Regions from separate parts of the Homo sapiens genome. Here all the other regions are linked to region 2. Evidence: fine-mapped expression QTL. A gene starts in region 2. Each other region holds a variant in brackets. All regions are shown on one strand. Distances are from middle to middle. Region 1 overlaps SAFB (scaffold attachment factor B). Region 2 holds the start of RPL36 (ribosomal protein L36). Region 3 has its middle 15 kb from the start of TINCR.

Region 1 (7,342 bases), 38 kb after region 2:
GCATACCACCGAGCCTGCCTAATTTTTAAATTTCTTGTGAAGATGGGGTCTTACTATGTTGCCCAAGGTGGTATCCATCTCCTGGGCTCAAGTATCCTCCCAGCTCAGCATACCAAACTGCTGGGATTACAGGCATGAGCCACCATGCTCAGCTCACACTGCAGCCCAGCAAGAAGATAAGAGTACAGGAAGGGGTCAAGGTGGAGAGCAGGCTAGAGGGAGGCTGGCGAGATGGGCCAGGTCACCATGGCATGCTCCACACTGCTGGGTGTAGGAATGCATCACGGGGAGGTGCTGACACTTTCAGGGTAGACAGGGAACGTGGACTGCCACACACCGACTCAGGGAAAAGCCAACAGTCCCATATGTAAATTTTAAAGTTAGCTTTAGAAAATAAGTTAACAGTTATCAGAGCAAAAGTAAGGATAAAGGAAAGCTTTCTGCATTTCTTAAAATAATTTGAGGCTGGGCGCAGTGGCTCATGCCTGTAATCCCAGCACTTTTGGGAGGCCGAGGCGGGCGGATCACCTGAGGTGAGGAGTTCGAGGCCAGCCTGGCCAACATGGTGAAACCTTGTTTCTACTAAAAAGATAATGGTGTGCGCCTGTAATCCCAGCTACTCGGGAGGCTGAGGCAGGAGAATCGCTTGAGCCTGGGAGGCGGAGGTTGGAGTGAGCCAAGATCGCACCACTGCACTCTAGTCTGGGCAACAGAGTGAGAACCTGTCTCAAAAAAAATAGTTTGAGATTTCTACATTTTCGAAACGGCCGACAAAAGCTTTTTTCAAATGAAGCTTAGTAATTCCCTAAGACGCACACAGAAATACAAACTGAAAAGAAGAGCAAAATACCCTAGTTAGAAAATTAATACTCACTCTCTCTTTGGACCCGGACGTTTTTACACTAATCACAGGCACCCCTTTGGATTTATCCATTACTACAGTCCGTTCGGTCCCTCGACTTCCTACAGAAAAGACGGGGAAAGTGTAAGTGGAAAACCAAGAATACCCAGATGAGAAAAACCCTCTGCAACATGAATCCAGTTTCCGTTGCCAGCTAATCACAGCAAACTAACAAACTCCACTAGGCACAGAAACAAGACAGAATCTCCTGGGCTCATGAGCTGCCCACCTGACTTTGTGGCTCGAGATCGCTCTGAGGGGCCAGGTTTCTGATCATCTTGGTCCTTACTCTTTTCTCCACTTCCGTCGTCACCCTTCTTAGCATCATCTTTTCTGTCACATTTATCATCCCTCTTAAGGTTTGTAGATCTATAAAAAACAGACATGTTGGCTGGGCGTGGTGGCTCATGCCTGTATTCCCAGCACTTTGGGGGGATGAGGCGGGCGGATCACATGAGACCGGGAGTTCGAGACCAGCCTGGCCAACATGGTGAAACCCCATCTCTACTAAAACCACAAATGGGCATGGCTATAATCCAAGCAAATCGGGAGGCTGAGGCATGAGAATTGGTTGAGCCAGGGAGGTGGAGGTTCAATGAAAAGAGATCTTGCCACTGCACACCAGCCTGGGCAACAGAGTGAGATTCTGTTTAAAACACCCTGCCCCGGCCAGGCATGGTGGCTCACGCCTGTAATCCGAGCACTTTGGGAGGCCGAGGCAGGCGGATCACAAGGTCAGGAGTTCAAGACCAGCCTGGCCAATATGGTGAAACCCCATCTCTACTGAAAATACAAAAATTAGCCGGGTGTGGTGGTGCACACCTTAGTCCCAGATACTCAGGAGGCTGAGGCAGGAGAATTGCTTGAACCCAGGAGGTGGAGTTGAGGTGAGCCGAGATCACACCACTGCACTCCAGTCTGGGCGACAGAGCGCGACTCCATCTCAAAAACAAAACAACAACAACAAAAAACACCCTGCCCCTTTAATTTAGCCAGGAAGGAGGGGTACCTGTCACTGTTGCTCGACTTCTCCTTTTTCCCGTCACTGTCTCTTTTGTCAGAGGTTTTCTTTCCCACAGGTTCATTTTTGGCCTGAAAAAGAGAATCAAGTATTACCCCCATTTCCTAATGTGGGCTATATCCTGGGAAGAAAACGGCCACTCACTTTCTCCACGGAGATCATCTTTCCGTGGAGCTCCGTCTTGTGCAGGTGGTTAATGCATTTTGTGGCCTCTTCTGCTGTGGACATCGTGACAAAACCGTAACAGCGAGCTCCAGGACTCCGGGCATTTGTCACAACCTTGGCGCCCACCACCTCAAAGGAAAGCAGGCAAATATGACTCAGACATGAAGCCCACTGAGCGGGGCATGGGGATATGAACACCCCACAGGGAAGTCTGCTCATCAGGGGTCCGACAAGTGTTAGACTGGGGAGGACAATGCTACTAATGCTTCTGTTTCGCTGTTGTTCCTCCAAGGACCTCTGGCCAGTTCTAATCGCTCATCTAGTTCCTCAAGGGGGCCAGGAGGGCAATGTAGGGGAACAGACGAAAGGGAAATCAAACAGGGTTCTGCCAGTGTTCCTTTAATATGGTCTAAAACTTGTGAAGAAATGATTCCAAATATACAGTCATGCTACGTAGGTGGTAAATTATGAAGTGATGTAATGTGGGCAAAAAAAGAAAAAAGAAAAAAAAAAGACTTCGGCACAGACTGATGCAAGGAAAGGTCTGTGAGCCGTGCTCTGGAACTCAGATCTGCCCTATCATTGACTGTAACAAAACGCAGTGATGTGTTTCAGTTACTGTAGACACATCCTTTCCAGTCTACCTGGTTTTCTCGACTCCAGCAGGATGCAGTTAGGGTCG[C/A]CCTTTGACGGCAGAAGACACCATGGCTCAGGAAAAGCCCTGCAGCAGCCAGTGGCCGAGGCTGGTAATCATGCTCATCATGCCACATGGAATCCTAGTCCCAGAGGACATTCTCAGAGAGGCCCGGTCCTCTAATTAACCCACATCAGGCCTGCTGCGCTCAAGACACTACAGTCTCCAGGGCAACACTTCCCCACTGAGCACACCCACCCGCTGGGGGACGCCATGGAGTCAGGAAAGGGGGTCTAGTAGGGGAGACTTGGCGCAGGTGTTGCCAGCCACACACCTTGTATCACTGAGGCTCAAGAAGCCCTTAGTTATGTCCGTAATAATGACATAATTAGTTTTATCCTTTTTTTTTTTCTTTTTTTAAGATGGAGTCTTGCTCTGTCCCAGGCTGGAGTGCAGTGGCACGGTCTCGGGTCACTGCAACCTCCACCTCCTGGGTTCAAGTTGTTATCCTGCCTTAGCGTCCCAAGTACCTGGGATTACAGGCATGCGCCACCACGCCCGGCTAATTTCTGTACTTTTAGCAGAGACAGGCTTCACCATACTGGCCAAGCTGGTCTCAAACTCCTGACCTCGTGATCCACCCACCTCGGCCTCCCAAAGTGCTGGAATTACAGGCGTGAGCCACCACACCCAGCCTGTTTTATCCTCTTTTAAGTTCTTCGAAGTCAGTATCAGGGAAAACACTTGGTTTTCTATATTGCAATGTGTTGAACCCTCACTGTGTAACACAAAGGATTGGACTCCTTCCTTTGGTAGTCCCCGAAACCGACTCTGAGAGAGACGAGGAGCCCTGAATGCAGGAGGCTGTTTGGGAGGCAAGTCTGGGAAACACCAGGGAGGAAGGGAGTGAGAAAGCACAGGGAGGAGGGCCAGGCGGCTGCGCTGGGCACTGCAGGTAGGGGGCTGGTGCCACCAGCCCCACCTTCACGGGCTCAGGAAAGGCAGGTGCTGCAGACAAGAGGCCACTAGAACTGCCCCCAGTGGTGAACTGAGGCAGCAACTTTGAGAGCCCCCAGCTGCTGAGGTGAGGTTCAGTCAATGGACCCAAGACACCCGTGGTGAGGACCCCTATCATCAGACTCCAGGGTCCCTGTTCTGAGTTCTGAGTTCCAGCATCACGAACACTGTTCTAAGAACACTGCTGTCTCCCAGACATGCTGACCAGCACCCCACCAGCCAACCCTGGCAGCCCAGCCTGAGTGCGACGTCCTGAGGACACAGAAATGGATCCACGAGCCATCACAGGGAAGGGGGCAAGCTCGCAGAGAAGGGAGGGAAATACAGTGGTGATGTGGGCTCTGGAAGCTTCCACACCACTCTCACCTCTACCTGTGGACGGGCAGACCCTCCCCAGCCATTAGCAAGTGTAAGCTCCTTGGTATCTCTCAAAGAACTCACTGAGGGGAGAGGACCTCCATGTAAAGGCCACACAACGCTGGTTTCAAAGTATCTTCTCCAGAAAAGCTCTGGCACTTACCTTCCCATATTTGCTGAAAAGATTCTTCAAATCTGTAGCTCTGGTTGTAGAAGAGAGTCCACTAACCCAGAAATTTCTACCACAACTGCTGCGACCTATTTCAAAAGAAAATTCTAGTAAAAACCCAAATACCCACAAGATCTTGAGTCTTAGAGACAACCTTTCCAAAAGAGACATGGTTCCCATTTTTCCTGAGGCAGTGGCAGCACTAAAAGCCAAATGGGGCTGTGGGCCTGACCACTATCCTCACCAAGAGCCTCCAGTGCAACACCAGGCCCAGCAGCACTACCACAGGGCCCGTCACAATACTGAGTGGGGCTATTGGGACAATGTGAGGTTTCCTAAGAAAGTTAGCAATTGCGGGCCGGGTGTGGTGGCTCACGCCTGTAATCCCAGCACTTTGGGAGGCTGAGGTGGGCGAATCACGAGGTCAAGAGTTCGAGACCAGCCTGGCCAACATGGTGAAACCCCATGTCTACTAAAAATACAAAAAATCAGCTGGGTGTGGTGGCGGGCGCTTATAATCCCAGCTACTCAGGAGGCTGAGGCAGGAGAATCTCTAGAACCCGGGAGTCAGAGGTTGCAGTGAGCTGAGATCGCGCCACTGCACTCCAGCCTGGGCAACAGAACAAGACTCTGTCTCAAAAAAAGTTAGCGATCGCTTAATTACAGGAGGAAGTGCAGTGTGCAACGGCCATGTAGCAGAACAGTCAACCTTGGTGTCAACAATGCACTGTTTCTCTTTCCACGTATAGCTCTGTATCTATCCCATGTTTTTACTCCTTTAGAACACTGATTAAGAAGGAATTTGGTAGGGTAAAATTATTTCTCAGTTAATGCATTTAATGAAGGGTTACAGGATGAATGTGCTCCCAACACAAGGATCTGCACCAAATCAGCCTGTTAACTCTTAGGACCTGGTATGCTTCCTACAACCCAGAACCTGTAGCGGTAACAGCAGAGAAGGAGAAAGACTGCACAAACGTCTCAGGAGTCTCCTGGGTAAGGAGCATAGCACGCGATGAACCAGAATCAAATACCCGCCACTGCCCAGGCCATACATGCTCCAAGGGACTGGTGTCGCCGAGGTGACCTACCCTTTTCCTCTTTGGAAAGCCTTTTTGTATCCGAGTCATCTTCGGGAGAACTAGAGACAAAAGACAATGTCACTCCACAAGGAAGCAGCATGGAGGAAACAAACTCAAAACCATAAAATTCGTGCTGAGGTTGCATACCTACCCGAAATTTAGTTCTGAAAAAATGATACCCCGACAAACTTGTATTGAAAATCTGACCTAACCATAAGATTTCAGACCCACAGGAGTTAATTAATTCTGCTGGGCTAAAGGTAATTAGGAAGAATTTAAGAACACAACCATGGTAGGTTGAGAAAAAGAAAAGGAATTGAATCACCCATTAAAAACACACAAAGAGAAACGAAACATTCTTTAGAAGCAAAACTACAATTTCGTCAGTCTGGCTGGCCAATTGCAGAAAAAAACAGCTTATGTGTGTCATTACATGACCAATGAAAAGGAGATAGCGTCTGGTCTAAAACTGAGAAAAAACAAACCTCATTTTCTGATCAGCGCCCTCACTGGTTGAGGACTCTTTAGGAGCCGGAGGGACTTCATTACAAGCGTCAAAATCAAACTTCCTCCCGTCTTCTTTGCTATCTCTGGCTTCTGGGCTTGGGGCTTCCGTGGGTGCTTCTGCGAGCTCCTCGCTAGAGGCCTCCGCGAGCTCGGAGGCCGCACTACTCTGCTCAACTGCCGGCTCTAGCCCTACAGGCTCACAGTCCGTCCTCTCGCCATCGCCTGGCTGCTCCGCGGGCTCCCTTTTCACTACCGCTAACAGGCTGTCTGCCTTGCTCGACTGAGCGTGTGCTGTTGACTCGCTGGCCAAATCTAAATCACCCTCTTCCGGATGGGCGCTGTCAAATAGGTCCTCTTCCTCCGCAAGCTTTCTGTCTGGCCCCACGCTACTTGTGTCCTGTGCAAATGGCTGCTCCAGCTCGGAACTTTCTTCTTTTACTGGCTCAGATTTACAAGTTTCCCCCAAAATGTCGAGTATTTTCTCATTTTCTACGGATTTAACAGGAATAGAATGGCACAAGGTTTAATTACCAGGGAAATAAAGCAATCACAAATGTGGAACTGGCACGGCTGCCACACTAACACGAAGAGAACTGCTAGCTACACAGAGATTGGAAAACCCGCGGGTACACAAAGTTATACTGGTTACACTACCTGCGCCGCGACCGCCTCTAGGTAAGCCTCTACGCTACACGGAAGAGAAAAGCATCCCAGAGATTTAACCCCCAAAACCTTCTGGCTGATTCTTGACAGTCTTCATTCTGTCGTCGTTTAGATATGACTCTTCCAAATTTAGCTTCCAAAGTCCAAGTTGCTTAACTGAATGTATCACCATTCACTGAACAGCTCAATTTCCAAATTTCTTTGAATTTCTTTTAACAGAACAGTCCAACATGAAAACCAGAATCTCTTCCATCCGTGCTCTGAGATATTTGCAGTCCAGAAAGTGAACAGTGTTTGGAATTCTCATGAAGACACTCTTTCCTCTTCTGGAATCCAGTTATGTCTCAAATTTATGTTTTAAAATGTATCTCCCTACCACTACCTGAGCTGCCTCAATTAAAAACAACAAAATTAAGCTACTGCCCAATATCACAAGATCTGTTTTGTGGGTGCAGAGGTATTAGCTCTCAAGAGAGGCATCTGGAACTCTTTCTCTATGTATGATTCAATGCTGTTGATATTCAAAAAGGCATGAGATACTTTCATCTCACCAATACATTTTGTAAAATGAGAAGTGAGCCACTTTCACAGATCTGGTGATATGGCTGGGTTTCCAATCTCTATGATCCTGGTAGGTTTTGGATTGTAAACCTTTAGAACAATGTATACTATAGTAAGGTAACTTTTAAAAATCAAAGAATTCAAATTAGAGAAGGTGGAAAACTAGAATGGTTCCAAACCCCCGCTGGTAAGTTTTTCATTTAACAGTACCTGGCTCCAGGGATGGCTCTTCAATTTCCTGCAAGAAAAAACGTAAATAAGACTG
Region 2 (6,920 bases):
TCCTGCTTCTCTTCCCAGGCAGCCCAGCGCCAAGGGAGAGGCTAGAGATGGGGACGACGTTTAGGATTACTGGTGGCGGGGGTGTTTGGAGCCCCTGGCCAGGGGCTGGCCTCTTCCAAGGGTGCTGAGCAGGTTGGAGCGCCACTGTCCCCACTCTTCCCTCCCATCCCTGCCTGTCCCCAGACTGGACCACACTTGCCATGTGTCTAGGAAGCCTGGTGCAGTCAGTCAGGAGATGCCACCACGAGGGAGGCATGGTCAAGTGGCTGTGACCACCTTGAATTGGACACCAGGCACAGACTTCCTAGATGATAAAATGGTGGAGGCAAATTGGGAGGCTCACTGTCCATGGAGTCAGTGTGCGGTGACAGTGGGAACTGCTGTCCTTTCAAGGGGCTGTGGTGGGGCTGTGCCTGGCATCTACTCCAGATATGTGTAGCCTCCGGAGGTGAGGGGGGTGACGCAGGGCCTGGGGGCAGAGATGCAGATGCTCACAGGAACCCTGTTCAGGCCCCAGACACTGCCTGACCTCTGGATGTGAGGCCGTGGGTGTGTGGCTCATCCAGAGCCCTGAGACTGCTCCCACCGCACGGCCAGACTTCCTAGATAAGGGGGTGGGGAGGCCCTGGCTCCTGCTCTCAGGCTGTTGGAGCCAAGGCCAGTGGTTTTGCCTTGAGCCTGTTTCCCCGTGGGAGACGGGGACCCTGGTGGGTTTTGGGACTTACTGCTTAGAACCCGGCATCACTGTGTATCGCCGGTCCCCAGGAAGCCCTTTCGTTCCTGGAGGTTAGCACACCTGCTGCCCTCCCACAGGCCCAGGCAGGGCTGACCCTGACTCTGCCCCCAGGCCAAGCGCGCAGGGGTGACGTGCATCGTCCTGCCAGCCGAGAACAAGAAGGACTTCTACGACCTGGCAGCCTTCATCACCGAGGGCCTGGAGGTGCACTTCGTGGAACACTACCGGGAGATCTTCGACATCGCCTTCCCGGACGAGCAGGCAGAGGCGCTGGCCGTGGAACGGTGACGGCCACCCCGGGACTGCAGGCGGCGGATGTCAGGCCCTGTCTGGGCCAGAACTGAGCGCTGTGGGGAGCGCGCCCGGACCTGGCAGTGGAGCCACCGAGCGAGCAGCTCGGTCCAGTGACCCAGATCCCAGGGACCTCAGTCGGCTTAATCAGAGTGTGGCATAGAAGCTATTTAATGATTAAAGTCATTTGCAGTACGGCGGCTTCCTCACCTGCTGCCCCGGGAAGGGTGGGCGGGCCACGGCTTTTGATTCACGACCAGGCAGCACCCGGAGAGGGTGTGGCTCAGAGCGGGCACCAGACAGGGGACTGCGGGCCCCCGACACACCCACACCCACCCACGGACAGCAGGAGAGCCAGGGCTTCTGTCAAGCTGTTCTTTATTTCAGGGAGAGGGCAGGGGAGGGGCTCAGTCTTTCTTGGCAGCAGCTTTCCTCATGGCGGCCAGTACGTTGCTCAGCTCCTCCCGCTTCCTCTTGGCGCGGATGTGCGTCCCCACCTGCCAGGGACGAGGCCGCCGTCAGCCCGGCCCTGACTCCCATCCCACCCCGCCCCTCGGCCGGCAGCGCCCACCTACCCTTTTCTTGATAAATTTGAGGGCCCGTTTGTCCTTGGAGACCTTCAGTAACTCCATGGCGCGCCGCTCGTACGGGGCAAAGCCACACACCTCCCGAATCATGTCCCGCACGAACTTGGTGTGTTTGGTCAGACGCTAGGGGGGAAAGGGGCGGCCGTCAGGGTAGGGGGATCCCTGCATTCTAGTTAAGCAGCTTCTCTCGCGCTGCCGCGATTTCCCTGGCTACTTCCTCCCCTCTGTGGGTAGCTGTGAGAACCAAGGTATTAACGCCTAGCGCTTTTCGCCGCGCCCGGAGCAGCTCCCATCCTCCCTAAGTCCCAGTCTCCGCAACACTGGCAGGACGCACCTGGAGTCTGGGCTGCCTGCTGAATAAAGGCGCCCAATACACTGACACACCTGAAATCCCTCAACCTCACACACCGCAACCTCGGGCCAGCTCCATGAGCGAACTCCTTACTCCTGCGTCAGAACCCCAAACCCGCTGCCCGCTTAATAAAGGCGCCCAATACACTGACACACCTGAAATCCCTCAACCTCACACACCGCAACCTCGGGCCAGCTCCATGAGCGAACTCCTACTCCTGCGTCAGAACCCCAAACCCGCTGCCCCGCGCCGCTCTCAAGGTGCTCCCTCTGCCCCAGCGTGGATTGCACGGTTGGGAAAAACCCAGATGGGTGCCCGCCTTCGAGCACCAGGCAGGAAGTCCCACTCCCCCACCCCATCTCTTCCATTCAAGCCCCCCTTAGTTCTGCGCCCGAACGCGCGTTCTTTCAGGTCGAGAGCCTTTGCCCAAGCCATGCCCTCCGCCCTCCAAGAAACCCCCGACAACCTCCGCGCGGCACCCGCACTCACCCCGCGGCGTCGGCTGTGCCTGGGCTTGCTCACGTTCTTGGTCACTTTGTGGCCCTTGTTGAGGCCCACGGCCATAGGGTAGCGTAGGGCCATGGCTGCGGACAGCGACGGGGAGAAGGGGCGGAGGTGAGTACCGGCTCAGTTCCCGAGGCCCAGAGCCCCGCGTCCCGGCTCCTTCAGCCTCGCTCGCCACAACCAACCATCCTCCAACCTGCACAGAGGACCCGGGAGTCCGGATGGCGGCGGATACCGGCAGTGCGGGAAACCACTTACCTGCTGCTCTCCAGAGACGGCCGTGGCGGAAGGGCTGGCGCCGCGCGGAACTCCGGGATATCTACTCGGCTCAGGAGGCGCAGGCCAGAGAGGCAAGAACGGCACGCGCTCCCCCTGGCGGCTGGAGTCTTCCCCGCCGTTGCGCTGAGCATGCGCGACCGAGCTCCCTGAGCATGCGCGTTTACTCCTGCGAGCCCGGGAGCTGGAGTCGGAACCAGTGGAGGTGGCTATGGCTGCTCTCCTCCCTCTGCCTGTGAAATGAGTTCGAATCCCAACTCCGCCTATTTCGGGCCGACCCTGCATCGACGACATCACCTCTCAGAATTTCTTCACTTGTAGAGCGGGAATAATAATACCAAACTGTATGAACTGTTAAAACGCCCATTAGGCCGGGCGCGGTGGCTCACGCCTGTAATCTCAGCACTTTGGGAGGTCGAGGCATGTGGATCACGAGGTCAGGAGCTCGAGACCAGCCTAATACGGTGAAACCCCGTCTCTACTAAAAATACAAAAAATTAGCCAGGCGTGGTGGTGGGCACCTGTAGTCCCAGCTACTCGGGAGGCCGAGGCAGGAGAATGGCGTGAACCCAGGAGGCAGAGCTTGCAGTGAGCCGAGATCGTGCCACTGCACTCCAGCCTGGGCGACAGAGCAAGACTCCGTCTCAATAAATAAATAAATAAATAAATAAATAAATAAATAGCCAGGCGTGGTGGCATGCTCCTGTAATCCCAGCTACGCAGGAGGCTGAGGCAGGAGAATTGCTTGAGCCCAAGAGGCAGAGGTTGCAGTGAGCCGAGATCGCACCACTGCACTCCAGCCTGGGCGACAGAGCGAAACTCCATTTAAAAAAAAAGGTATTGGTTTTGTTATCAATTGGTCAAGCTCTAGACTAGGTCTGAATACAGCAACGTGTAATAGTGCCCCTTGCGGACATCTGATGTAATTTAGGTGGTGTAGGGACGGGACGCTAAATAACTGAATCGGGTGGCAGAAACACACAAGTTTCCAGTTTTTCTCCTTTAATGCTACTAATATACAAGAAGAGAGTCTCAATTTAGGGCTGCTCTAATTAGGGTTAGCGCTTTCATGTTTTTTCCAGACAGGGTCTTGCTCTGTCGCCCAGGCTAGAGTGCACTGCTGTAATCATAGCTTATTGTAGCCTTGACTTCCAGGGCTCAAGTGATCCTCCTGCCTTAGCCTCCTTAGCTGGGACCACAGGCACATGCCACCACGCCTGGCTAATTTTTTAATTAAAATATTTGTTTGTGGCCGGGTGCAGTGGCTGACACCTGTAATCCCAGCACTTTGAGAGGCCGAGACAGGGGGATCACCTAAGGCTAGGAGTTCGAGACCAGCCTGGCCGACATGGTAAAACCCCGTCTCTACTAAAAATACAAAAAGTCAGGCGTTGTGACCCACACCTGTAATCTGAACTATTTGGGAGGCTGAGGCACAAGAATCGCTTGAACCCCGGAGGCAGAGGTTGCAGTGAGCCTAGATCGCACCACTGCACTCCAGCCTGGGCGATAGAGTGAGACTCCGTCTAATAAATAAATAAATAAAGACAGGGTTTCACCATGTTGGCCAGGCTGGTCTCAAACTCCTGACCTCAAGTGATCTGCCCACCTTGACCTCTCAAAGTGCTGGGATTATAGGCGTGAGCCACTGCTCCTGGCCCTCTCAGCCTCCATTTCCCCACCTGTGAAATGGGATTGAGAGTCAAGGCCCCTGATACACACACCCCCTCCCGCTGCCCGCTGGCTGCTAGCAAATTGGAATTACCAAGGAATTTGAACAACAGATATGCAAGAGAAGAAGAGTTTTTATTCTCGAACAAGAGGCTGGGTCCAGCTCAGAACACACTCTTTCCCTCCTCCTCCCGCTCAGACCCTGCCACCAGGTAGACGAACAGTGTAGACGCCCCTGCAGGTGTGAAGAGTACCAGAGACCCCAGCTAGGGGAAGCTGGCAGGAGTTGGGGGGGTTCCTCCCAGATGGAATGAATGGAAAGAATAAATCAGGGACTTAAAGGCGCAGGCAGGAGATGGAGAGGGGTCCATGGGTGGCTCAAGGGTGGCGTGGCCTCTCTGAGCCTTAGTTTCCTCATCTGCAAAATGGAAGCAGTCACGTCATCAATCATGGCCAAACAGGTGAGGCCTTGCAAGTCCCCGACAAAGGCGCCTAACACGGGGCACCTGCACCTCCCAAGCCGTGACTGGTTCCAGGTGCCCGTCGTTTTTCTCGGTTTTGCTTTTCTGTCTTGATGACTTCATCTTGGGCTGTGGCCACCCTCTCAGGGGTGTCTCTGTGAGTGTTCTGGCTCCAGGGACAGTTGGAGGGAGGAACATTGCCGTCTGGGACTGGAGGGGCACCCCCCGGTGCTCAGGCTGCCGCGGCCGTGACGTTGAGCTCCTGGCGGATAAACCAGGCCCGCGGGCGCGGTAGCCAGCGCCGGAGCAAGCACAGCAGGCGGAAACGCCACGGGTAGAAGACGCCGGCCGCGCGCGTGGCGCCGCCGCGGATCACGGCCAGGGCTGCCTTGGGCCCCGGGGCCGCCTTGACCCTCGTGACTCCCCTGGGGACAGGAGGGCACGGTGGGGACTGCGGCTGGGGCTGGGCCATGGCCCCCAGCCCAGCCCCCAGCTTGTCCGGGCCTCACCTGACTGCCTCGGCGGCGGAGGCGCGATCTCGGAGGCCCAGGACGCACATGGTGATGGCCACGTTCACGTCCTGCACGTCCAGCTCCCGCCGCAGGGAGCCGAAGAAGCCGTCCAGCGCAAACTTGGCCGCCGAGTAGGGAGTGGAGAACGACGTGGGCACGCGGCCTGGGGGCGCGGACGGCAGCGGCTGAGTGGCTCCCCCTCGTCCGGGAAGCCTGCCCAGACCCTCCAGGCTCACCCGCATCGAGCTCCCCACTCCCCGTCCCGCAGAGCCGGGGCCGGGTGCACGCACCGAGCAGCGAGGACACCACCACCAGGGAGCCCTTGCTGTCCGTCAGGCTGGGCAGCGCCCGCGACGTCAGTTGCACGTAGCTCACAAAGTTTACCTGCAGGCGGCACTCGCGAGTCACCGGCAGAGGCGGAGCCCAGGGGCAGGGCGGGGCCAGAAACCCAGAGGGCGGGGCCAGGGCCGGGTCAGAGACGGGGCCAGAAACCCGGAAGGCGGGTCCGAGGGCGGGGTCAAGGCCGGAGCAGGGGCTTGGGCTAGGAGGGGCGTGGCTGGGGCGGGACGGGTGGAGAGCCCTCCCTGGAGAAGGCAGAACCCGGACCGCGAAGGGAACGGACCACCGGTCCCTGAGATAGAGGGGCGGGCCGGGGCCGCGGAGGAGCGGAGCACCTGCATGAGCCAGCGAGTTGCCTGGGGGCTGCGGGCTCGCGTGCCGGCCGGGGCGCCGCCGATGTGGTTCAGCACGAGGTAGTCCAGCCCGCCTGGCCCAGAAACGCCGGTCAGCCCCGGAGGCCCCTCCCCAAGGAAACGATCAAACCCCGCCCCCGAGCTTAGCTCCACCCAGAGCGCTGGTCCAGCGAGCTCCGCCCCAGGTAACTCCCACTACGATCAAAGACACCCAGCCTTGGCCTTACACCCTGGATCTAGCAAGGTTTGGTTCCCATTCAACGAGGCCCCGTTCAGAGCTCTTCCCCCAGACGCAATGAGACTCCACCCCGCCCACGCCCCCAGTCCCCATTTGTCTCCGCCCTGAGACACCTGTTACTGTGGCCACACCCACAGCCCAATTCTGGTCCTGTCCCTAAGGCCTAGGCCACGGTCCCGGACTCCAGGCTTCAGGCCCAGCCCCTCACCCAGCTTGTCCAGCGCAAACTGCACCACGCTCTCGGGCGCCTCAGGGGAGGCCATGTCCGCCGCGATGTAGAAGACCTTGGGGGCGCCCAGCTTCCGGCAGTTCCCTACCACCTGGGGGGGGCCAGAGCTGCCCGTGGGCCTCTCCTCTACAGCAGCGCTTCCCCCTCCACCGCACCTGCTGGCCATAGGGAGGCCCCCGCCTGAAAACCCCCCCCTACTCTGAGCCTCGGGACCCATTCAACATCATTCCCAAAAATTTACCACTGCTTGAGGGGCGCAAAGTGGAGGCCCGCGGGCCAGAATGCTGGCCAATTTGGTGGTTAGTCAATCACCAACATCTAAAACAGGACATTTCATCTACAATTTCCTGATTGCTAGCTTCTCTTGAAAT
Region 3 (7,342 bases), 140 kb after region 2:
TAATCCTAGCACTTTAGGAGGTCAAGGCTAGAGGATTGCTGGAGGCTAGGAGTTCGAGACCAGCCTGGACATGGGCAACATGGCAAAACCCTGTCTCTACTAAAAATACAAAAAAATAGCCAGGCGTGGTGGTGGTGCACACCTGTAGTCCCAGCTACTTGGGAGGCTAAGGCAGGAGAATGGCGTGAACCCGGGAGGCGGAGCTTGCAGTGAGCCGAGATTGTGCCACTGCACTCCAGCCTGAGTAACAGAGCAAGACTCCATCTCAAAAAAAAAGAAAAAGAAAAAAAGACCCCCTTTCCTTCCAATATCGTAAGCATGACCTCTGGGGTGTCTTCAGAAGCTGCTGGGATCATGCATTCCACAATCACTGATTAAGCACCTCCAGTTTGCAGGGCTCTGAGGACAGCGTGGTGACTAGGATACCCAGTCAAGCTCCCCACGGAGTTCACGGCCCAACAAAAGCCACAGAAGCTGCAGGGCAAGCGCATGGCCCCTGAGACTCCCCAGAAACCTCTCCCACACACAACCTTCCTCTGAATGACCTTGGGTGTTCTTTGTCCCTCGCTGGGCCTCAGTTTCCCTGCCTGCCCAAGAAGGGAAGTGTTTGGGATAGCCAGGCATTCGGTGTTTGCTGGCAGACAAATCCTGACTAACCCCCGTGCCCAAATGGATTTGAAAGAACCCTCAAAAAGGAAAACAGTCATAAGAAAGAAAAAAAAACCCGGCCAGGCGCAGTGGCTCACTCCTGTAATCCCAGCACTTTGGGAGGCTGAGGCGGGCAGATCACGAAGTCAAGAGATCGAGACTATTCTGGCCGACATGGTTAAACCCTGTCTCTACTAAAAATATAAAAATTAGCCAGGCGTGGTGGCAGGCGCCTGTAGTCCTAGCTACTTGGGAGGCTGAGGCAGAATTGCTTGAACCCGAGAGGCGGAGGTTGCAGTGAGCCAAGATCACGCCACCGCACTCCAGCCTGGCAACAGAGCGAGACTCCGTCTCAAAAACAAACAAACCAAAAAAAAAAAAAAAAAACAACACAGAGCCGACCACTGACCTTGCAGGGTGATGCACCTGGGGCAGAAGCAGCCTCACTACCACCCCTTGGAGCATCACGGAAACTTATCCATCTCTTTCCTTGGTGGCCCCTGGCTATCCACTGAAGGCTGCTGGCCTCACTATGAGGGCTCCAGGCCTGGCCCTGAGGTCCCCTGACTTGGCACTGACCTCACACTTGTGCTTTAAGCTTCAGACCTACTAAACCCCTTGCTGGGCTCCAGCCACAAGGTTTTTTTCACAGGCTATTTCTTTTCTTTTCTTTCTTTTTTTTCTTTTTTTGAGACAGAGTCTAGCTCTGTTGCCCAGGCTGGAGTGCAATGGCGCTATCTTAGCTCACTGCAACCTCCACCTCCTGGGTTCAAGCGAACCAGGAGGTGAGAATCCTGTCTCAGCCTCCTGAGTAGCTGGGACTACAGGCACACATCGCCATGCCCTGCTAATTTTTGTATTTTTAGTAGAGACGGGGTTTCACCATGTTGGCCAGGCTGGTCTTCAACTCCTGACCTCAGGTGATCCGCCCGCCTTGGCCTCCCAAAGTGCTGTGAGCCACCGCACCCAGCCTGCATGGGCTATTTCTGTATATGAAATACCCTCTCCCAACCTTTCACCTTTCACCCTGTGATTTGCAGGTTCAATGTCACTTCCTTGGGGAGGCCCCCAAAACAAGTTATGTTCCTGTTGTTTTGTATTCTCACAACATCTTGTTCTTTTCCTTTGTAGCATTAATTATTTATATTATTATTCATTCAATGTATGTTTTCCCCACTAGCCTGTGGGCACCATGAAGACGGGGAAGAGGTCTGGTTTGGTCACTGCTGCAGTACACAGCGTTTAATAACCCAGCGCCAGGGAGCGGTGGGGAGCCAGGAACACCTTTGCTCCCTTCCCAGGCTCAATGAGGCCCCCTCTCCACCATAGTTCCTGCCACCACTGGGCCTTGGTCCAGGTGACCAAGGGGCACGGAGGTTTGGGATTGGGATTCCAGGCACTCTGGCTCCTGCCGCCGTGATAAATGGGGAGAATTCAGAATTAATTATCGACTGCTCTGCTGAGCCGGCCTGATCTGGGCAGATAAAGAGCGTGGGCGCCACTGCATCTGCCCAGCGCTTCTCAGAAGTTTATTAGAGGATGGGAGGCAGTTGGCTGATGGGAGGAGTCTGGAATGCATTAGAGCCAGAGCTGCTGGGGGCAAGGCTGTGGCTCTGCTGGGCCACTTGGGGCAACACGCTCTTCCTCTCTGAGCCTTGGTTTTCTCATTTGGAAAAAGGGAAGTAAAAAAGAAAATCCTACCCCAGCAGTTTGGGATGCCAAGGTGGGCGGATCACCTGAGGTCATGAGCTCGAGACCAGCCTGGACAACATGGCGAAACCCTGTCTCTACTAAAAATACAAAAATTAGCTGGGTGTGATGGCGGATGCCTGTGATCCCAGGTACTTGGGAGGCTGAGGCACTAGAATCCCTTGAACCCGGGAGGCGGAAGTTGCTGTGAGCCGAGATTGCACCACTGACCTCTCTGAGCCTTGGTTTTCTCATTTGGAAAAAGGCAAGTAAAAAAAAAAAAAAACAGCCGGGCGCGGTGGCTCACGCCTGTAATCCCAGCACTTTGGGAGGCCAAGGCAGGCGGATCATGAGGTCAGGAGATTGAGACCATTATGGCTAACACGGTGAAACCCATCTCTACTAAAAATACAAAAAAATTAGCCGGGCGTGGCAGCGGGCGCCTGTAGTCCCAGCTACTCCGGAGGCTGAGGCAGGAGAATGGCGTGAACCCGGGAGGCGGAGCTTGCAGTGAGCCGAGATCGCGCCGCTGTACTCCAGCCTGGGCGACAGAGCGAGACTCCGTCTCAAACAAAAAAAAAAAAAGAAAAGAAAAATCCTTATATGTTGAGATAAGTTTTTTGGGGAATCACCAAGAGCAAAGAAAGCAAAGTACACAGTAGGTTTCATGCGTGTCCATGTGAAGAGACCACCAAACAGGCTTTGTGTGAGCAGCATGGCTGTTTATTTCACCTGGGTGCAGGCCGGCTGAGTCCGAAAAGAGAGTCAGCGAAGGGAGATAGGGGTGGGGCCGTTTTATAGGATTTGGGAAGGTAATGGAAAATTACAGTCAAAGGGGGTTGTTCTCTGGTGGGCAGGGGTGGATCTCACAAAGTACATTCTCAAGAGTGGGGAGAATTACAAAGAACCTTCTTAAGGGTGGGGGAGACTACAAAGTACATTGATCAGTTAGGGTGGGGCAGGAACAAATCACAATGGTGGAATATCACCAGTTAAGGCTGTTTTTACTTCTTTTGTGGATCTGCAGTTACTTCAGGCCATCTGGATGTATACGTGCAAGTCACAGGGGATGCGATGACCTGGCCTGGGCTCAGAGGCCTGAC[A/T]TTCCTGCCTTCTTATATTAATAAGACAAATAAAACAAAATAGTGTTGAAGTGTTGCAGCGGCGAAAATTTTTGGGGGGTGGTATGGAGAGAGAACGGGCGATGTTTCTCAGGGCTGCTTCGAGCGGGATTAGGGGCGGCGTGGGAACCTAGAGTGGGAGAGATTAAGCTGAAGGGAGGTCTTGTGGTAAGGGGTGATATTGTGGGGATGTTAGAAGAAACATTTGTCGTATAGAATGATTGGTGATGGCCTGGATACGGTTTTCAATGAACTGAGAAGCTAAACGGAAGATAGAAGGTCTGAAGAAAAGGAGGAGAAAAATGGGTATTAAAGGACTAAGAATTGGGAGGGCCCAGGACATCCAATTAGAGAGTGCCCAAGGGGGTTCAGCGTAATTACTTTCTTGGTTGGCAAGTTTTTGGGCTCTATCCTTGAGTTTTTTTATGTTGTCATACACCAGGCCAGATTGATTTAGGTAAAAACAACACTCCTCATTTAAGAATATGCAGAGTCCTCCTTTTTCAGCAGTAAGTCAGTCAAGGCCTCGGTGGTTTTGGAGGACAACTGCAGCTAAAGAGTCAACTTGGGCCTGGAGGACTGATAAAGTTTGTGATTTTGAGGGCCTCTAAAAGTATTAAAGCAGCAGCAGCCGCTGCACGCAGACATGAGGGCTAGGTTAAAACAGTAAGGTCAAGTTGTTTGGACAGAAAGGCTACAGGGTGTGGTCCTGGCTCTTGTGTAAGAATTCCGACCACGCTAACCATGCCTAGGAAGGAAAGGAGTTGTTGTTTTGTAGGTGCTGGGGTTTGAGAGGTCAGTCGGACACGATTGGCAGGGAAAGCACGTGTGTTTTTGAGAATTATGCCGAGATAGGTAACAGATGAGGAAGAAATTTGTGCTTGATTGAAGTAATGGGGGCTGTCTGTGAAGCTTTGCAGCAGTACAGCCTTGGTAATTTGCTGAGCCTAATGGGTGTCAGGGTCAGTCTAAGTGAAAGCAAAGAGAGGCTGGGACGAGGGGTGCAGGGGAACAGTGAAAAAAGCATCTTTAAGATGGAGAACAGAATAGTGAGTTGTGGAGGAACGGATTGAGGACAAAAGAGGGTACGGGTTGGGCACCACAGGGTGGATGGCAAAACAATTTGGTTGATAAGACGCAGATCCTGAACTAATCTGTAAGACTTATCCGGTTTTCGGACAGGTAAAATGGGGGAATTGTAAGGAGAGTTTATAGGTTTTAGAAGCCCATGCTATAGCAGGCGAGTGATAACAGGCTTTAATCCTTTTAAAGCATGCTGTGGGATGGGATATTGGCGTTGAGCGGGGTAAGGGTGATTAGGTTTTAATGGGATGGTAATGGGCATGTGATCAGTTGCCAGGGAAGGAGTAGAGATGTCCCATACTTGTGGCTTAAGGTGGGGGGATACGAGAGGAAGACGTGAAGGAAGCTTTGGGCTGGGGAGAAGGGCGGCAATGAGATGCGGCTGTAGTCCAGGAATAGTCAGGGAAGCAGATAATTTGGTTAAAGTATCTCGGCCTAATAAGGGAACTGGGCAGGTGGGGATAACTAAAAAAGAGTGCATAAAAGAGTGTTGTCTAAGTTGGCACCAGAGTGGGGGAGTTTTCAGGGGTTTTGAAGCCTGGCCGTCAATACCCACAACAGTTATGGAGGCAAGGGAAACAGGCCCTTGAAAAGAAGATAATGTGGAGTGGGTAGCCTCCGTATTGATTAAGAAGGGGACGGACTTACCTTCCACTGTGAGAGTTACCCGAAGCTCGGCGTCCGTGATGGTCTACGGGGCTTCCGAGGCGATCGGGCAGCGTCAGTCTTCAGCCGCTAAGCCGAGAAGATCTGGGAAGGAGTCAGTCAGAGAGCCTTGGGCCAGAGTTCCAGGGGCTCTGGGAGTGGCTGCCAGGTGAGTTGAACAGTCCGATTTTCAGTGGGGTCCCACACAGATGGGACGCGGCTTAGGAGGAATCCCGGGCAGCGGGCATTCCTTGGCCCAGTGGCCAGATTTCCGGCACGTGTAGCAAGCTCCTGGGGGAGGAGGTTCTGGAGGAACGCCTGGCCGCTGCGGTTCAGGCATTTGGAAGTTCTTGTGTGCTGGAGATGTGGCTGGGGTTTGTCTCACAGTGGAGGCAAGGAATTGCAACTTTTTTCTATTATTGTACACCTTGAAGGCGAGGTTCATTAAGTCCTGTTGTGGGGTTTGAGGGCCGGAATTTAATTTTTGGAGTTTTATTTAATGTCGGGAGCAGATTGGGTAATAAAATATATTTTGAGAATAAGACGGCCTTTTGACTTTTTAGGGTCTAGGGCTGTAAAGTGTCTCAGGGTTACTGCCAAACAAGTCATGAACTGGGCTGGGTTTTTATATTTGATGAAAAAGAGCCTAAACGCTTCTGATTTGGGATAAAGAAAAAGGAGCATTAACCTCGACTATGCCTTTGGCTCCAGCCACCTTTTTAAGAGTAAATTGCTGGGCAGGAGGGGGAGGGCTAGTCACGGAACGAAACTGTAAGCCGGACCAGGTGTGAGGAGGGGAGGCGATAAAAAAATGACAGGATGCAGGAGCAGAGGCTGAGGAAGAATTGGGACTTAGCTTGGGCTGGCGAGGAGGGGAGAGGTCAGATGGGTCTGTAGAAAAGGAAGATGAGAAAGACTCAGCGACGCTTGGGGTTGGGACTGAGGGGACAGGTGGGAGGGAAAGAAGGAAGATTTGGGACGAGTTGCACTGGGCACAGAGAGTAGGAAGGGACTGATGGACTTCAGGCACCTCAGACCATTTGCCCATTTTACGACAAGAATTATTTAGATCTTGTAGGATGGAAAAATTGAAAGTGCCGTTTTCCGGCTATTTGGAACTACTGTCGAGCTTGTATTGGAGTCAAGCGGCATTGCAGAAGAAAATAAGGCATTTAGGTTTTAGGTCAGGTGTGAGTTGAAGAGGTTTTAAGTTTTTGAGAACACAGGCTAAAGGAGAAGGAGGAGGAATGGAAGGTGGAAGCTTACCCATAGTGAAGGAGGCAAGCCCAGAAAAAAGAGTAGAGACACGGAGAAGGGGTGGGGGGTTCTCGCCCTCCAGAAAAGCAGAGAAGGGGTTGGGGCACGGAAGTAAGGGATTGGGGCACAAAGAGGTCAGGGTGTGGAAATAAGGGATTGGGGTGCAGAGATATAAGAGGTTGGGGTGCGGAAATAAGCGATTGGGGGTTTCTTGCCCCCTAGGAAAGCGGGACTTGCCACTGAGGGTGAAGGAGAAGGGGTTGAGGGGTACTTGCCCCTGCCCCAGGAAAGCGGGACTTGCCACTAAGGGTGAAGGACCAAGGCGGGCGTCCCTGCGTGGTCTGACACCCTTGAAACGTGAGTGTATAATCAGAGAGGCGTCCCTGCAATGATTAAACACCAAGGGAAGGCTGCCTTCCCAGTCCGTGACCGGCGCCGGAGTTTTGGGTTCACGGATAAAACATGTCTCTTTTGTCTCTACCAGAAAATGAAAGGAATTGAAATTAAGAGAAGGGAGAGATTGAAATGTGGCGCCAAGATTGAAAGGAGAAAGAGGTTGAGGGATAGTGAGGGAGGTTGGAGAAGAGAGTAAAAAGAGGCCGCTTACCGGATTTGAAATTGGTGGGATGTTTCCTGGGCTGGTTGGACTGAGGACCTGAGGTGGTAGGTGGATCTTTCTCACGGAGCAAAGAGCAGGAGGACAGGGGATTGACCTCCCAAGGGAGGTCCCCCGATCCGAGTCACGGCACCAAATTTCATGCGCGTCTGTGTGAAGAGACCACCAAACAGGCTTTGTGTGAGAAGCATGGCTGTTTATTTCACCTGGGTGCAGGCCGGCTGAGTCCGAAAAGAGAGTCAGCGAAGGGAGATACGGGTGGGGCCGTTTTATAGGATTTGGG

What was found. PIP is the estimated chance that this variant, and not a neighbour inherited with it, causes the effect. A credible set is the group of variants that fine-mapping cannot tell apart.
Region 1: its variant is the best candidate, but not a certain one, in a credible set for the expression of RPL36 in whole blood (INTERVAL, PIP 0.51).
Region 3: its variant is the best candidate, but not a certain one, in a credible set for the expression of RPL36 in fibroblasts (GTEx, PIP 0.71).

The regions. Positions count from the first base shown.
Region 1 is chr19:5,647,989-5,655,330 of GRCh38, reverse strand. It overlaps SAFB (scaffold attachment factor B), which reads right to left. Exons shown (of 21, transcript NM_001201338.2): 6 at 7,288-7,315; 7 at 5,832-6,342; 8 at 5,356-5,405; 9 at 4,259-4,353; 10 at 2,067-2,216; 11 at 1,911-1,993; 12 at 1,131-1,270; 13 at 875-963. Among named protein-coding and RNA genes, the nearest start is that of SAFB, 29 kb to the right of the region's middle. RefSeq lists an enhancer at 5,658-6,857. The variant C/A (reference allele first, on the strand shown) is at 2,770.
Region 2 is chr19:5,686,136-5,693,055 of GRCh38, reverse strand. RPL36 (ribosomal protein L36) reads right to left here and starts at 2,761. Exons shown (of 4, transcript NM_033643.3): 1 at 2,729-2,761; 2 at 2,456-2,550; 3 at 1,603-1,737; 4 at 1,181-1,524. The coding sequence starts at 2,548. The coding sequence ends at 1,435. It overlaps HSD11B1L (hydroxysteroid 11-beta dehydrogenase 1 like), which reads right to left. Exons shown (of 8, transcript NM_198706.3): 4 at 6,529-6,640; 5 at 6,065-6,156; 6 at 5,681-5,774; 7 at 5,388-5,553; 8 at 4,534-5,303. The coding sequence ends at 5,111. LONP1 (lon peptidase 1, mitochondrial) reads left to right here. Exons shown (of 18, transcript NM_004793.4): 18 at 848-1,222. The coding sequence ends at 1,024. RefSeq lists enhancers at 1,060-1,109, 1,170-1,219, 1,407-1,932, 1,933-2,458, 2,459-2,984 and 2 more and silencers at 1,650-1,699, 5,518-5,577, 5,818-5,967, 6,038-6,297.
Region 3 is chr19:5,548,871-5,556,212 of GRCh38, reverse strand. No RefSeq gene overlaps it. Among named protein-coding and RNA genes, the nearest start is that of TINCR, 15 kb to the left of the region's middle. The variant A/T (reference allele first, on the strand shown) is at 3,441.